Regions from separate parts of the Homo sapiens genome. Here region 1 is linked to region 2. A link means that fine-mapping ties the variant in region 2 to the expression of a gene that starts in the linked region. Tissue or cell type: whole blood. Region 2 holds a variant in brackets; the other region holds the start of a gene. All regions are shown on one strand. Distances are between the middles of the regions.

Region 1 (8,103 bases), 46 kb before region 2:
GTTTCACCTGGGAAATCCTATTACACACAGGAGCAGTGAAGATAGGGGTTTTCTAACCTGGGCAGAGAAGATTCTGTCTCTAGGCTCTGGTAAGATAGAGGGTATAGAGTCTGGCAGAACCAGGAAGAGAGGGGTGGATCAGCTCTGGGTGACAAAAGCTCTCCCAGGTAGAGGAGAAAGGGTTGTGCTATGAGGAAATGAGTTCCCAGTTACAGTGGCATGCAAGCAGAGGTGGGACAGCCAGTCAAGGAGCCTGCAGAGGTGACCTTTTCCTGGAGGAGATAGGAAGAGGGGAGGGAAAGGCCACAAGAGTGGAGTCAGACAGGGTAGGTTTGGATTCCAGTTACTAATTGTGTGACCTGGGGCATCTCCCTGAGGCTTGGTTCTGTCATCTGGAAAATGGACTAATCAGAGCTGCTGCAGAGGGCGGTTGTGAGAAATGGGAAGTGCACCTCCACATCAGGCCCTGCGATGGTACCATTAGATGACTCAGTTTACAAAAACTGACCAGCAGGATCCCGGGCCAGAGCATCATCAAAGTCCCACCTTTTCCCCAACCTTGTTGGGCAGATCTGGCTCTTCCTGGCCTATCTTGGGGACCTCTCTCTCCCCCAAGAGCAGGGCCAATGCTCTCTCCACCCGGCCACCAGGGTGGGTGTCCTGGGCAGGTCACTCTCGCTAGGCCTCTTTCCTCACCTGTCGGAGAAGGTGGAGCTGCTGGAGATGATTAAAGGACTGGGCCCTTCCAGTGCTAACCTGCTAGGGTGGCTGGGCTTCTCACTGGCCATGAGTGCATGTCTCTGCTTCTGGGACTCAATGTCTTCACAAAATGAGGGGCTGGGCCAGATGACAATAACACCAGCTAGCACATGCTGAGCTCTTACTCCAAGCAAAGGGCAACCATGAGGGCTCCGTATGTCCCGGCCCATTTAATCCCACAACAACTCCATGGTGCGACTGTTGCTATGCTGGCTTTATAGGAGAGGATACTGGCACAGTGAGGTTGGGTCACTTGTCTGAGGTCACTCAGCTAATATGAGCCCAGGCAGAGCCCATGCTTGCAACTACTGCACAATACCCTCTTGTGGCTCCAATGCTTTGAGATACAGAAGGGGGTCTGAGCATCCTCTGAACCCCACTGTTTTGTGGGCTGAGGCAAACATGCCTTCTCAGACACAACCCCAGCCCCACCTTGGAACACATGGGAGTTGCCCAGCCCAGAGACAATGCTGCCCAGTATCCTACACAACCGGGCCTTTATCGATCCCCGTGACTTGCCTGTACCTGGTCATCACACACTCCAGCTAGAAGCCCATTTTACAGACAGGGAAAAGGATAGAGGACCTGCCCAGATCACACAGCCAGTAACTGGCAGAGTGAGGACTGGAGCCCAGATCTACTTGGCTCTACCAAGTGCTGCTGTCTTCCTGACAATGACCCTTGGCCTCTGCCCTCCAGGAACTTTGGCCTTGCAGGGGAAACCTTGGCCCCACCAGCAACTCTGAGAGACGCAGCCTGAGAAGGGCCATAGGTGAGGGGTGGATGCTGAGCAAGGGAGCTTTGGGATGCTGCAGCACAGGGAGGAAGGAAGAGTCCTTCAGACGGCCACAGATCAGCACGGGCATGGTTTCAGGTGGGGAGAGTAGAGCCCCTGAAGTGACTTTTGAAGGGCTGGTGAAGCTGCTGCTCCCAGTACAGGGCATGGAATAAGGTTAGGGGAGATGGGGGAGTCAGATGGGGTGCAGTCTTAGAACACTCTTCTATGGGTGGCGGGTCTCAGCTGCATATGTGAAAGTCTTCTTTGGTTGGATAGGAGGCTCCTGAGGGGGCTGGGGCTACTCTTAAGGGAGAAGCATCTGGGTGGCCTGGGACAGAGGCAGGGAGGTTGGGGAGAAGCTAGAGAAGTCCAGGTGACTGAGAGTGAGGTGAGGCAGAGACTCCTCTTAGTGGAAATAAAGGAAAATCATGAGTCTTTTCAGGGGGAATTTCAGGCAGCTAGCTAGCTTTGAGAAGTAAATGAGCACCTTGACAAGCAAGAAGGTAATTGAAGCTTCAAACAAGGGCCACCCAAATAAGTTAGAGCCACAAGATGTCTGGTTCCCTATAGAAACTAAAGATAACATCTTGACCTATGTCCCTGAATTGTTTTTCACAGCTGTCACTTAGGCCTCAGATAAGGGGAAACTGAGGGCTGTTCTTTAAATTTCTTCCCAAGGGTTCTGTAAAGAGTCACACCCATAAGCCAATGCTTAACTCTCCTATCTGTGGACCCCAGGTTTTTAGACAGTCTTGCTTCCTAAGCCAATTGCAAATCACAGAATCTCTGAATCCACCTATGACCCTGCCTCAAAATGTCTCACCTTTTTGGGCCAAGCCAATGTATAGCTCCAGAGTATTTATTTATGACTTTGCCTATAACCTCTGTCTCCCCACCTTTAAAAAGCCTTACATGTAAACCATTGGGGAGTACGGGTCTTAAGCATTAGCCGACCTATTCTCCTTGCTTGGCACCCTGCAATAAATGCCTCCCTTTCTGCCGCTGCAAATCCTGGTGTCAGTGTTTGGCTTTGCTGCACTGGGTGGGCGGACCCAAGTTTGTTTCGGTAACACAAGAGGTTGACGAAATCATTAACTGAGACTTCGAAACAAATTGGAGGCGGAGAATGAACGGGCCTGAGACGCTCCACCAGCGAGTGGGCCGATGGGCTCATCAGATCAGATGGGCGTCTGTCCTGCTGCCTCAGGGCGGGGGGTGGTGGCACCCCTGAGCTCCTACTGTAGGCAAGAACTAGTCACTCCTAAACCTTCTCTATCGGATTCCCCAAGCGGCCTGGGGTGGGTAGAGATTATAGTCCCCGTTTTACAGATCAGGAAATGCAGGCTCCGTGCCATCCCAGGGCATTCCGGTAGCCAGTCACGGACAGAGAGTCAAACATGAGCCCGAGCCCGGGAGCCCATGGCAGCACGGGATTAAGTCCTCAACACGGGCCGGGGTCAGTTTTCCCATCTGACAGAGGCCCTCTGCTGCTCACAGGGGCCTGGGCTCCCACTTCTCCATCCGAACACTTGGGATGGATGTGAAGGTGGAGCCCGGAAAGGGAGGGGCGCCGCCCACCAAGTCCTGGTTCTGGCAGGCACCCTGGCCCTTGCGGGTCCTCGGTACTACACGCCGGCCCCAAGTCAGCCGCGGCCCCGGCCCGCCCTGTGGGGGCTGAACCCCAGCCCCGGCCCGATCCCTCACGGTGCAGCCAGCCCTTGGGAGGCTGCCCATGGGGATGCGCACCAACCGCAGACAGATAGGCTGGGAAGGAGAGAGAACGAGGGCCCGACCGAGCCGGTAGAGGCGGTGGGTGCCGCTAGGGGCCCCAAGTCCGCGTTCAACACAGGGGCTGGAATGAGACCGCTCCTCTGAGCGGCCGCCCACCGCACCAGTGCGCATGGGCGCACCCGGCCACCGGGCCGCCCACCCCGCCCCACGGGAGACCACGCCTCCGGCTCGCAACGGGCAAATGGGCGGAGGCCGCGGGCGGGGCGGGGCGGAGCCGGGCCCAGCTGGCCGAACCCGGGGAATGCGAGCGCCAGCCCCCGCCGCAGGCCAGTCCCAGCTGGATCTCCGGCCAGAGCCCGAGGCTGCTGCGCCGGGCGGCTGCAGCCTCCGCTCCAGCGCCCGCGCCGTGCCCTGCATCCCGGGAGCCCGGCTGGACCCGCGGCGGCTCGGCCGGTAGGAGGCGGGCGGAGGGAGGCGTGTGCTTCTGTGTGTGTGTGTGTGTGTGTTTCGGGGGGGTGTGTGCGGGTGCAGCGCGGGCCAGTGATTGCTCCGGGACCACGAATCAGTGGAGGGGGCTGCACCTCCCGCGGGCCCGGGGGGAAAGGAAGTGAGCGCTGGCTGGGGGGCGGGGTCCTGGAGCATCCGCCTGGGCCCCCTCGGCTCGTCCCCACCCCCACCCCCGGCGAGGAGTCTTTTTTTCACCTCCCTCTGGGTGTCTCCGAGTCGTTTTCCTAGTGCGGACGCGCTGGAAGCGCCTAACACCCGGGGCTAGACTGTCACTTCCTCTCATCTTCCTTACAGTTCCCCCCTTCTCTTCCCTGCTTAACCCCCCTTTCATCCCTGCAATCCACCAACCCCTTCTGGGTGCTCCACCACCCAGGCCTGGGGAAGGGGCAGGGCCGAGGCTCCTACTGCCCCAGCCTATCCGCTTCTTGGCACTACTCCCCAGGTTGAAAGGGGGCTTTTCTCCTTGACTGCAGGGCGGGCGCACGTGTGTGTGTGTGTGTGTGTGTGTGTGTGTGTGTGTGTTGCGGGAGTGTGGGGGAGTGGTCTGGGAGGGAATGGATCTTTGTTTCTCAGACCTCAGAGTTCCCACCTCTGTTCCTTTGCGTTGGGGGTCTCGGAAGACTGGCCTAGGGGACCAGAGGCGAAATAGGACAAAAGATCATTAACAGGTGCGACGTTCTCTCTCCCAGTCATTTCATGTGGTGGGATTCACCCCCAAGTTCCATACAGATCAGAAGAGTGGGGCACAGAGAAGCGAAGTCAGCTGCCCTCTCAGGATTGCTGAGCCAGAATTTGAACCCGGGTCCGCCTGGCTCTCATCCCAGAATCTTCTCCCTACACCTGTGGTTTAGAGAGAAAAGTACTGAGGGCGACTATCCCAGGACTCAGGGGAAAGAGAGATCTGGGCAGACTTCTTGGAAGAGAGGGGCTTACGGGTGAGGCTCAGCCAACTCAATGAGTCTGAGGCCTGCTGGGGGAACCACTGTGTTTTGCAAGGATTGACACCTCCCAGGGTCCTCGGGCTGGTCCTTGCTCCTGTCCCCAGGGTCTGGGGGTGGGGTGGTGTGGCTGCCTTTGCCTCCTGGGCAGGGTATGGTGGGCCCAGCTGCTGCTGCAGGCCAGGTCAGGCTAGTTGCCAGCACACAGAGGTGCTCAGGCGGGGTCTTTGCCCTGAGGAGCCTCTCTTCTGACAAGACAGGCAGTGGGTCCACAGATAAGGCCCTGTCCAGAGTTGTACCCAGTGCTGGGAGCACAAGACAGGGACTGATGGGTGCCCGGGAGCTGGGGATGAGTTCACTTGCAGATTCGTTGGGGCTGGGTCTTGAAATCCACCAAGCAGAAAAGAAAAGGCAGGTCATTGCAGCCCCAAGGAACAGCATGAGTAAAGGCCTGGCAGTGTGAAAATGAATGCTGGTGGGGTGGATTGCGGATTAGATAGGTCAGATGTGTGTCCAAGAAGGGCCACCTTTGGCTGCAGTAGTGGGTGGGCTTCCACTGAGGGCTATAAGGAGGAGGCCAAAGCAGGGAGAGGGCCCTCCCTTCTGCTCTCCTCTGCTCCCCACCCAGGGCTAGGCTTGGCAGGGGAGGAGGGACCCTGATAAAGTTTCCCAGAGCAGGGGTGCTGGGGGCAGGAGGTGCCCAGGGGCTAAGGGGCTACACAGGGTCCCAGTGCTGGGGGAAGGTAGGTGGGGCTGCCTCTGTGAGATGGGGACCACCATTGGGGGTGGAGCAGGTTGGGAGTAAGTTGACTGTTGGACAGGGTGGTTGTGAGATGCCTGTGGGTTTTTGTGGGTGACATCTGGGACACTGCTCCCAGGCCAGCACTGTCTCTGTCTGCTTCTGCGCCTGCTTTCCTGGCAGGCTGTCAGATCAGCCCTGGAGTCCTGGTCCCCAAACAGGAGGCCTCCTGCGCCCTCAGTGGGCACCCTCTCCTACCTGCAGGGCCTAAATCATGTGTCTGTTCTTTCTCTTGGCTGAGACCATCTCTGTACCTTCCTACTTGCCTATGACCTTGAGGCGGAGAACTTCCCTTTTCTGTCTCAGTTTTCTCATGTGCGGAATGGGGATAAATGCTGCCTATTCACAGGGACTCGGGGGATGATGAAGATGAACTTAGATCATGTCACTGAACGCATCTTTCTAAGTACATGGTGTCTGGTAGCCATTGTTACTAATAGCAGCTGGCAATCAGCATCACTTAGTTCCCTCCCTGGGGATGAGGGGCTGACTTTGGGAGAAGAAGGGTGGAAGGAAACAGTCCTCTCCTATTGAAACGGAAGCCTCTCTTGGCTTTAGTGGGTGAAGGGGACTTACGGGAGTGATCTGTATCTGCCTGACCAAGTCCCCTGGCTTCCCCCAAAAGCTTCTAGCCCTTGAGGAGAGGCAAGGGCTGAGCAGCCGGGAGCACCCTAGAGTACAGCATGTAAAGGTTGAACAGAAAGCCCAGCAGTGGGCCCTGGGCTCCCCCAGCTGCAAAGAGCAGGGTCTGCAACACCCCCCACCCCTCCCCAGCAGCCTCCTGGGCAGCTGGCAGCAGTCTCTCTGCAGCTGGGCTTTTCACCCGTTCTGTCTCTGTCCCCATCTATTCAAGTGTTTTGAGTGCCTTCAGAGCCCCTCCCAGGCACCTCTCAAGTGCCCTCAGAGAACTCTTCTGCCTCTCCATCCCTGGTCCCCGCTCAAAACTTTCCTGGGCTCACCGTGGTCCTGAGGCTTGGCCTTCCTGCTGCCCACCTCTGAGCCCTCCTCCAGGCTGGTGGAGACACCCTGGGATTGCCTTGCTTTAGTGCAGGCAGAGCTGCTCACTTGCCTATGAACTCAGGCTTTGCCTTTCCCTGCTCACCCAAGGCAAAGGGGCCAGGTCCCTTTGCGGTTGGAATCTGGATGTCTTAGGAAGCCAGCCTCAGGCTTGGATGGGGAAGCTGTGGATGATGTGTGCTTACCCGCAAGGGCCTGGGTTACTGCTCCCCATTCTGGTTGTTTGCACGTGTGCTTCCAGGGACCCAAGTTTTCCCAGGGATAGGGGTCTGGGTGGGCAACAGCTGAGGCTGCGGTGGCCTGTGGGTGTGTGCTGTGGTTTTCTCCCACAGTGGGCATGCAAGAGAAGGGGCTGGTGACCAGAGCACATCAAAGCCCATCCACTGGTCCCCAGCTGCCCTTCACTGTCAGGATGTGCCCCCGGGGATGGTGGGCAGAAGGCTGGGAGCCCATTGGCTTGACCCACCTGCCCTGCCCAGCCAGCCCCTGCTCAGCCAGTGCCCCCTGCTGCTGTGTAACTTCTGCCAGTTGGAGTGAGGTGGGACCCAAGTGATTTGTTACTCATAGCAGGAACTAAGAAACTGATGTGGGGTGACTGTTGTACAGCGGAGCAACTCAAGGTGTAAGAACTTCATTTCCCTCATGGGCTTCTCCGGGCAGGAGAGGCGGGTGGGACCCCATGACACCCCGGCTCCCATTAGCTATTCTTCAGGAACAGCATCGTTCAAGAGCATATTCCTTTCCTATCACTGTTGCGACAAATTGCCACACTTGGTGGCTGAAAACAACACAGATTTATGCTCTTACAGTTCCGGAGATGAGAAGTCCCCCATGAGTCTAATGGAGCTAAAATCCAGGCTGGCTTCTTCTGTGGGATCTAGGGGAGAGTCCATTCCCTGTCTCTTCCAGCCTCCGGTGGCTGCTGGCATTCCTTATGGCAACATTGCCCCAGTCTCTGCTTCTGTCTCATTGCTCTTTCCTCCTCTGCAGGCAGATCCTCTCCACCTCCCTCTTATAGGGACACTTGTGATTACATTCAGGGCCCACCCAGATAAGCCAAGATCGTCTCCCTGTCTCAAAATCCTTAATCGCATCTTCAGAGTCCCTTGTGCCATACAAGGTGTCATTCACAGGTTCTAGGGATTCGGTTGGGAGTATCTTTGGGGCCGTCATTCAGCCCACCCCAGGAGCTGACAGCAGCGTCACTGCAGGCACCATTCCCAGCTCCCGCCCCCACCCCAGTGCCCACCGAGGCTGGCTTCCCCAGTCACAGTCCTGTTTCCCCCAGGAGGTCACTCACAATGTCTGTCTCCCCTCCAGCCTGGGAGCCTTGGAGGCTGGGCGCTGCTGTAGCCCTGGCCCCAGTGTGCAGCCTGAGCCCCTGGTAGCCAGAGTTCAGGGATGTTTGGAAGAAGGGCATCCCTGGCACAGCCGCATGGGTGGTCCCCAATGTCTGGACCCTGCCTGCCTTTGACAGCGTGCTGGGCCTTTCAGGGTGGAGTGCAGCTCATTTCAGACATTCACGCAATAAGCCCAGTGCTTTGCAGGGTCATTTGATGCTCACCATCACCCTA
Region 2 (8,103 bases):
AGCAGCTTCTTGAGCCACAGAGGGCTCAGAGCCAAGCCTCGAGTTTGACTAATGATCCTCCCGAGGTCCTAGCAGCCTGTGAGGGCTGCCCTTCCTCCCAGCCATGGAGTCCAGAGCATTCAGAACAGGGCAGGAGCAGAAGGAGGGGGTGAAGGTGATGGGCCAGGCCTGTGTTCTCAGCTTAGGACTCCCTGTCACTCTGTGCGCTTGGGCAGATCTTGTTTCTTTCTGGACCTCAGTCTTCCCATTTGTGCAGTGGGAATGGTAACCCTCACCTTGTATGGAACCGCTCTTTTTTTTTTTTTTGAGACAGAGTCTTGCTCTGTTGCCCAGCTCACTGCAACCTCCGCCTCCCAGGTTCAAGCGATTCTCATGAGTCAGCCTCCTGAATGGCTAGGATTACAGGCACGCACCACCACGCCCAGCTAATTTTTGTATTCTTTTTTAGTAGAGACAGAGTTTTACCATGTTGGCCAGGCTGGTATCGAACTGGCCTCAAGTGATCCACCTGCCTTGGCCTCCCATGAGACGTGTTTTTGATACAGCTGTCTGTCCTGAAAGCAAAGTGGGGAGAGAGTGCCAGGAGTCAGGGCATTTTTACTTAGAAAGGGCACAGAGTTGACAGAAAAGTGGGGGTGAGGAGGTGGGGGAAAGGAACAGCCAGTGTTGAGCCCTTGCTGGGTTCCAGACAGTGAGGTTGGGAAGTCCTGGGTTTGAACCCTGCCTCCCTCGCTTGAGCCTGTGGGCAGCCTTCTGCCAGCACCTTCCGGTAGTATTGCCTCAAAAGCCTGTCCTGAGGCTCAGGGGTGCTAGTGTGAGCAGCCTGGCCCTGTGCCTGGCACCCAACAGGGCTCCATTAGGGCAGTAGTACCTCTCGCTGCAGTTAGCATTTTCATTTTCTTGGTCTCACATGTCCCATTAGGGAGCATTTCCCTTTGCCAACATCCCTTTTGATGGTAAGAGTTTTGTTTGTTGATGCAAACAAAAGTGTCCTTAATGAGCATGCAGTGGGGAGCAGCTTTTGGCTGAAGTCTGTACACTCAGGTGAGTGCCGGCCTCCTGGTGTGCCTCTGGTTCCTCCGCCTGGGTGCCCCCCATACCTGGAGTGGTTTTCTTCTAGAAAGAGCTGCTTATGGTCCTGATGGGGCTCAGCTCCACTTGGTCCCGTGCCCAGCAGGGCCAGGGGTCATTCACCCTGACTTGACAGGGTGAGGGGTTTTCCCTTCTCTGCCCAGATTGTGGCTATTGTCCTCATCTGCTTGGGGGACGCCTGTAGCAGCACTGCGGATGCTGCTGAGTAGGGTCTGGCACTCCCTTCTGGTATAGCCCCGCCTGCACCCTGTGTAGCCTCAGCACTTTGCCTGGGTGCCTCCTCCTCTCCCCAGACTGGGAGCCTTTTGAGGGAAGGGACCATGTGATTCACCTGGTTGTCAGTGTCCAGCTTGGGGCTGGTTGCAGAGTGGTCCACAGTGCCAAGGAGCTCATTTTTCAGAGGCAGACAGATCTGGGTTTGAATCCTGGCTTCAAACCAAGGTTGGTCTGCCTCCAAAGCATGTGTGTATTTTCTAGCTGGGTGACCCTGGACGAGTTACGTGCCCTCTCTGGGCCACAGTATTGTCATCTGTGAAGTAGGGCTGGATAATAGTCATCTACTCAGAGGTTATTGTGATAATTAAATGGAGATAAGTCATGGTAGTCACAGGCATTTCCCAGATGCGTCATAAGTAATAAAATCAATGTCTCAGTGTCCCCAGTCAATGTCTTTGAATTCATTCATTCAGTCAATGCATGTTTACTAAACATACTCTCTGGGTCAGGCCCTGGGCTAGGTGCTGGGTGCATAGCAGTGACTGAGACCTATATGGCCCTGCCCCCAGAGAACTGACATTCCCAGTGTAACATCAGAGCTCAAAGTCACAGAGTTACTTAATTATAACTTGGTAAAGGTAAGTATCTCAGATGAGAGCTGCCAAGGGCCATGAGACTGAGATAGGGGTCCTGGCCTAATCTGAATAGTCAGGGAGGCTTCCTGGAGAAAGAGGATGGACACTAAAGGACAAATGGAAGTCTACTGAGTAATGAGGAGAAGGAAGAACCTGGAGCAGGGAGCAGGGGTGGGGGCTGCTGTGGGGGAGGCAGAGAAATGAGGCTGGGGGAGTGCATTGAGAGTTTGTGTCTTATTTTCTAGGGAAGTGACAGGACTGGGTTGGTCTATGTGGGGCGAGAGTAGATGTAGCTGCAGACACTGCTACAGTTGTCCCTGGGCGAGGAGATGGGGGATTGGGCCAGGGTGGTGCCAGTAGGATGGAGAGGAGGAGATGGATTTCAGGAGAATGGAGGCGCTCAGATTGGGCTGACTGGATGGAGGGAGGGAAAGCAAAGCAGCCAGTGGGGCTGCCAGCCTTGGGGTGGGCTGGATGGGTGGATGGTGGCGCTGGTCACTAGGCAGGAGCTGGTGGTAGATGTGGACGGAAGTCTCGGGGAAGGTTGCAGGGAGGCATGAGAAAGAGGAAAGCTCACACACTCTGAGAACAACAGCTGGAAGGAGGCCGAGGGAGCCTCCAAGCCTCGCGGAGATGGGAACCTGAGCCTGGAGATGGGGAGGATTCATCCGGGTCTCACGAAGGCTTGTGGCAGAGTTGGAATCCGAACCCAGTATTCCTTTACATTCCGATTCGCTGGAAGCACACGCCCCCATTTCCTCAGGAAGCCGGACATCCCCTCACTGTGTTCCCCCATCCTATCCCCCCTCCCCCTACCCAGGTCATCCCAGACTGGAAGGAGCAGGAATGGGACCCCGAAAAGCCCAACGCCTACGCGGGCATCTTCCACTTCCACTTCTGGCGCTTCGGGGAATGGGTGGACGTGGTCATCGATGACCGGCTGCCCACAGTCAACAACCAGCTCATCTACTGCCACTCCAACTCCCGCAATGAGTTTTGGTGCGCCCTAGTGGAGAAGGCCTATGCCAAGTAGGTGCCAGCAGCAGGCAGGTGGGTGGGAGGCCCAGACGGGGGTGGCACCGGATGGGCTCCTCGTGGTATTCCGTTAGCCAGGGCTTTAGGCACAGAGAAGTGAGGGGCTGGTGCAGGCACGCAGCAGGCTCAACCGCCAGGCCTGAGGGCATAGTCAGCTGAGCCTGTGCTGGGTGGGGTGGAGGCCTGGGCCCTGTAAGGAGAGGAATGTTGGTTACTCCCATTTTAGGGGGAGAAGACTGAGGCCCAGGCAACATCCTGTAGGTAGCTGGGGGCAGAGGCAGCACTCACATTTAGGACCATTCTCGAAGGTTCATGCTGCCATGCCCTGCCTGGGGCCTTGGTTGGGGAAGTGGTAACTGAGCTGGGGCCTGGTTGTGCAGGGTGGGCCACGTGCCTGCCTTCCCCGCCTGCTGGGCCTCCCTCTTGTCCACCATCCGCCTCTGCCTGGCTGACTGTCCATTCTGTCTTTGCTGACCCCTCCTTCTGCTCCGTGCCTTCTGCTTCTGTGTCCCCAGTGCCCAACACAGAGCCCAGCATAGAATGGGCACAAGCAAAGTTTTGCTGAGCTGTGGGGAACCCTGGGGAAGAGTGACTCGCGCAGGCCGTTGCAGGGCAGGGATACGCCTAGGCCAGGAGGGAGGAGGGAGGAGGGGCAGTGGGGTCAGAGGCCAGCCTCGCCAGCTCTAGGTGAGCCACTCTCTGGTTCCTCCTGCTAGGCCCATTTGTCAATCTTGCTGAAAAAATGTGTGTGTAGGGGCAGGAGCAAGGAGAGAGAGAGATAGAAAACAAGAGAAAGGGGGAGAGAGGAAAAGGAAAGACAAAAACTCCCAACATCAAAAACCCAAGAAAACACATTGGCAGGTTCCACTTTCAATCCTAAGAAAGGAAAGCCAGCCCCCTGGTGGCCACTGAGTCTCCACCACCTGGATGCAGGTCGACCCAGTGGCCTTGGTTGTTTTTTGTTTTTTGAAAAAACACAGTTTCATTGTGGTAAAATAGACAAAACATAATGCTTCTCATTTTAACCATATGGAAACATACAATTCAGTGGCATTCATTATGATCACAGTGCTATGGGCCATCACCACTATCTATCCCCAGAACCTTCTCATCATTCCCAGCAGGAGGTCTATACCCATCCGACAGTAACTCCTTCCCCTCCCCCTGACCATTGTTGGCACTTTGGAAAAGAGTTGCTTTTTTTTTTTTGGACAGCTGATTTTTTAAGATTGAGCCACTAAGGCTTAGGGGAATTTAAGCCTTATATGTTGGCCCGAGTGTTAAGAACTGGGTTCCAGTGTTGGCTCCGCCGTGGCCTGCTGCGTGACTGTAACAGGTTGTTTGACCCCTCTGAGTTTCAAAAACCTCCCCTATGAGGTAAAGGATGCAGCCTGGCTGGGGAGCATGAGCTGGG[A/C]AGTCTTTCCACATTGCTTCCCAGACTGGCAGGCTGTTACCAGGCCCTGGATGGAGGCAACACAGCAGACGCACTGGTGGACTTCACGGGTGGTGTTTCTGAGCCCATCGACCTGACCGAGGGTGACTTTGCCAACGATGAGACTAAGAGGAACCAGCTCTTTGAGCGCATGTTAAAGGTGCACAGCCGGGGCGGCCTCATCAGTGCCTCCATCAAGGTGAGAACACGGCAGTCCCCAGAGGCGACCCCTCCCCTTCACCCTCGCTGACTGAGATGGGAGACAACTGTGACATCCCACGCTCAGGTCAGCTCCTACGTATTCAGACCCTCAGCCTCGTGGGGGAGGGGAGAAGTTGGAAGGTGCAACCCCCTGCCCAGACCCTCTAGGCTGTGAAAAGCCTTTCCCGCACTGTTCAACCAAAACTTCTTTTCTGATCCTCTTGGGTTATGAACGTCTGTGCATCTGAGGGTGGTCCTGATTTCATTACTTGCTCGTGTTTTGGATGAGAAAGCTGAGGCCCAGTGAAAGCCAAGTTCAAACCCAACTTTAGCAGACCCTGTGCTGTGCTGGTAAACTGCCTCCAGCAAAGTAAAAAGCCCCGGTTTGTAGCATTTGCTAATTACTGTGGTGTAAATACTCCCACCATGGCTGATTTCCAACTACCCACATTTAACAACCAGCTATTAACAATATTCCTGGCCGGGCATGGTGGCACATGCCTGTAATCCCAGCTACTCGGGAGGCTGAGGCAGGAGAATTGCTTGAACCCGGGAGGCAGAAATTGTGGTGAGCCAAGATCGCGCCATTGCACTCCAGCCTGGGCAACAAGAGCAAAACTCCATCCAAAAAAAAAACAAAAAACAAAACAATGTTCCTGAATATTTAACAATTCCTGGAATATTTAACAATTTAAATATTCCCGAATATTTAACAACAGCTGAGCCAGTGCACGTGGGCCCCAGCATTCCCCTGGGCTGACCCACTATGGGCACCTTCCTTTACTGAGACTGCTGCCCATGGGGGTTTTAAAGCTCTGTGAACACAGCACTGCCCCATGACTGCAATTCCCATCCCATCCTGTAGGTCCCGTGCAGCCTCCTAGCCCTCCAGCACCTGAGTCCCTGGTCTGGGTTCCAGTGTGGCCCTGCCTCTCTGAGCAACTGTGTCCCTCCACAGGCAGTGACAGCAGCTGACATGGAGGCCCGCCTGGCGTGCGGCCTGGTAAAGGGCCACGCATACGCCGTCACTGATGTGCGCAAGGTGCGCCTGGGCCACGGCCTACTGGCCTTCTTCAAGTCAGAGAAGTTGGACATGATCCGCCTGCGCAACCCCTGGGGCGAGCGGGAGTGGAACGGGCCCTGGAGTGACACGTGAGGCCTGGGGATGGGGGTGCAGGCACAGGGCATGAGGGCTTGGACAAGGACGGGTGGGCTTCTTGGAGGAGTTGGCACTGGGGCTGGGCCTTGAAGGATCTGGGGGAGGATGACACTAGGAACGAAGAAGGGAGAATTACTTTGCAGTGGTTGTATGGGGTGATGGATTGAGCACAAGAAAGGCCTGGGGCTGGAGGCCATCAGGGGTGTAGAGACCAGCTTGGTGAGTGGGTGCGGGAGGGGAGCAGGGAGGGAGGCCACAGCCCTGAGCAAATGGGGGACTCCTCTGTGCTTGGCTTATGGCCCTGGTAAGGCCAAGATGGGAGTGGAGCCCAGGTGCTAAGTGAAGGAGCCCTCTTCACTGGGGGTCGCACCCCCCTTCCCCCCAGTCTGCAGCTTTACTTTCAGACCTCCCAGCCCCTGTCATGGTGGCAGCTCACGGTCCCTTGTGGGAGGAGACAGGCAGGGCTTCCTGGAGAGGGGCTGGGCATGGCCTCAGTGCCCCTGGCCACACCGTGCCGCTGGAGGCCTGGTGCAAGACTGCCCCTCGTGCCTCCTCGCCTTTGCCAGACAGATTCTGGTGGGGCTGCCTCTTAGACAGCTCCCTTTCTCCTCCCCGGCCCTGACACCCCAGCTCGGAGGAGTGGCAGAAAGTGAGCAAGAGTGAGCGGGAGAAGATGGGTGTGACCGTGCAGGACGACGGTGAGTTCTGGTGAGTGTGTATGTGCCCTGGGCGTCCGGGGCTGAGGGGGCTTCCCACGGGCCTGGCGGGGAGCACCAGGTGGGGAGTCAGGAGCCAGGCCTCTCCTGCATGCCCCATCATCAATTTGCTGTGTGGCCTTGGACAAGTCACACCATCTCAGAGCCTGTTTCCTCCTCTGTAAAATTAGTTGGGCAGTACCAGGCCCTTTCATCCCCACAGTCCCCTCTGCCGAACTGAGGGGTCCTGGAGCCGCTGTGGCACCCAGACCGAGCCTTTGGCATGCAGGTCAGGGAGCCGTCTAAGAGGTGGGCCCACCAGGATCTCCCCGGCAAGGGTAAGGAGGCATGAAGCACAGTCCAGCACCAGCAGTATGGTGTGGCCAGGGGCACTGGGGCTATGCCCAGCCCCTCTCCAGGAAGCCCTGCCCTCAGCCTGCCTCCAGGGGCCCTCTGGCAGCCTGATTTCTGAAATTAGGTAGCAGAGGCTCCTAGAGGAACTAGCTTCTAAGCTGAGACTTGAGGTACAGAGTAGGCCTTGGTGGGCAAGGAAGAGGACGTGGCTCAGAGGTGAGAGAACACAGCTGTGTTTGAGAAGGGAGCTAAGCAGGTACATGGGTGAGCTGGGAAGATGACAGCAGCTCAGCTTAAAGAGCCCAGTAATTGGCTGGGTACAGTGGCTCATGTCTATAATCCCAGCACTTTGGGAGGTCAAGGTAGAAGGATTGCTTGAGTCCAGGAGTTTGAGACCAGCCTGGGCAGCATAGTGGGACCCCATCTCTACAAAAATGAAAAATTAGCTGGGTGTGATGATGTACCCCTGTAGTCTCAGCTACTCTAGAGGCTGAGAGGGGAGGATTGCTTGAGCCCAGGAGGTTGAGTTTATAGTGAGCCATGATCGCACCACTGCACTCCATCCTGGGCTAAAGAGCAAGACCCTGTTTCAAAAACAAAAAGAAAAACCCCAGTAGTAATAAAAGTTCATCCTGCATTCATCCAGCCTGCATGAGTCCTGAATGTGGGCTAGGCTCAGTGTCACCCTTCAGCAGAACCTGATATGGAAACTCAGTCCCTTCCTGGAGGGGTATTGGCATCCTGTGTGTGCTGGATTCTGTCAGGGCCCCCAGGCAGACTGGGGGCAGATGGCAGTGGTCCTGGCACCCAATGATGAACCCTTCTGCAGGTGTCAGGTCAGCTGCTGCAGGAGGCCACCCAGGCCACTTTGCCAGTCTTGCTCAGGAGTCAGCAGATAAAAACACGGCAGAGCTCCTTGCCTTTAGAAAGAGTTTCTTCCAAAGGCCTTTCTCTTACATGTTCACGGTTAATTCACTGCCCCCTGCCCCCACCAGCTCCCTGGAGGCGTTCACAGTGTGCAGTGACCATAGCAACACCCTGGCCACCGCAGCAGGCTCACCATGGGGTTCCCACCATCCACTTACTCAGGCCTCTCAACAGCCATGGAAGATCCTGGATGCAGATGTGCTTTATAAACTGTACAGGGCAGCAGACAGTAGTTATTAACACCATTCACAATAGTAACAGCCAGCGTTTGCCAGTGCGTGCTCTGTCAGCCGAAAGTTGCACTGCCTGCTTTGATTGCATTACCTAATTCCTTCACTAGCTCTGAGATGGGCACCT

Evidence for each region. PIP is the estimated chance that this variant, and not a neighbour inherited with it, causes the effect.
Region 1: it holds the start of CAPN5, and the variant in region 2 is fine-mapped to the expression of CAPN5 in whole blood (TOPMed, PIP above 0.99).

The regions. Positions count from the first base shown.
Region 1 is chr11:77,063,374-77,071,476 of GRCh38, forward strand. It overlaps CAPN5 (calpain 5), which reads left to right and starts at 3,598. Exons shown (of 13, transcript NM_004055.5): 1 at 3,598-3,721. It overlaps LOC105369400 (a long non-coding RNA gene), which reads right to left and starts at 350. Exons shown (of 3, transcript XR_950341.1): 1 at 1-350. RefSeq lists an enhancer at 2,757-3,257 and a silencer at 3,114-3,803.
Region 2 is chr11:77,109,826-77,117,928 of GRCh38, forward strand. It overlaps CAPN5 (calpain 5), which reads left to right. Exons shown (of 13, transcript NM_004055.5): 4 at 2,764-2,972; 5 at 4,417-4,609; 6 at 5,570-5,763; 7 at 6,401-6,478. Among named protein-coding and RNA genes, the nearest start is that of OMP, 11 kb to the left of the region's middle. RefSeq lists enhancers at 3,299-3,893, 3,894-4,489, 4,490-5,083. The variant A/C (reference allele first, on the strand shown) is at 4,393.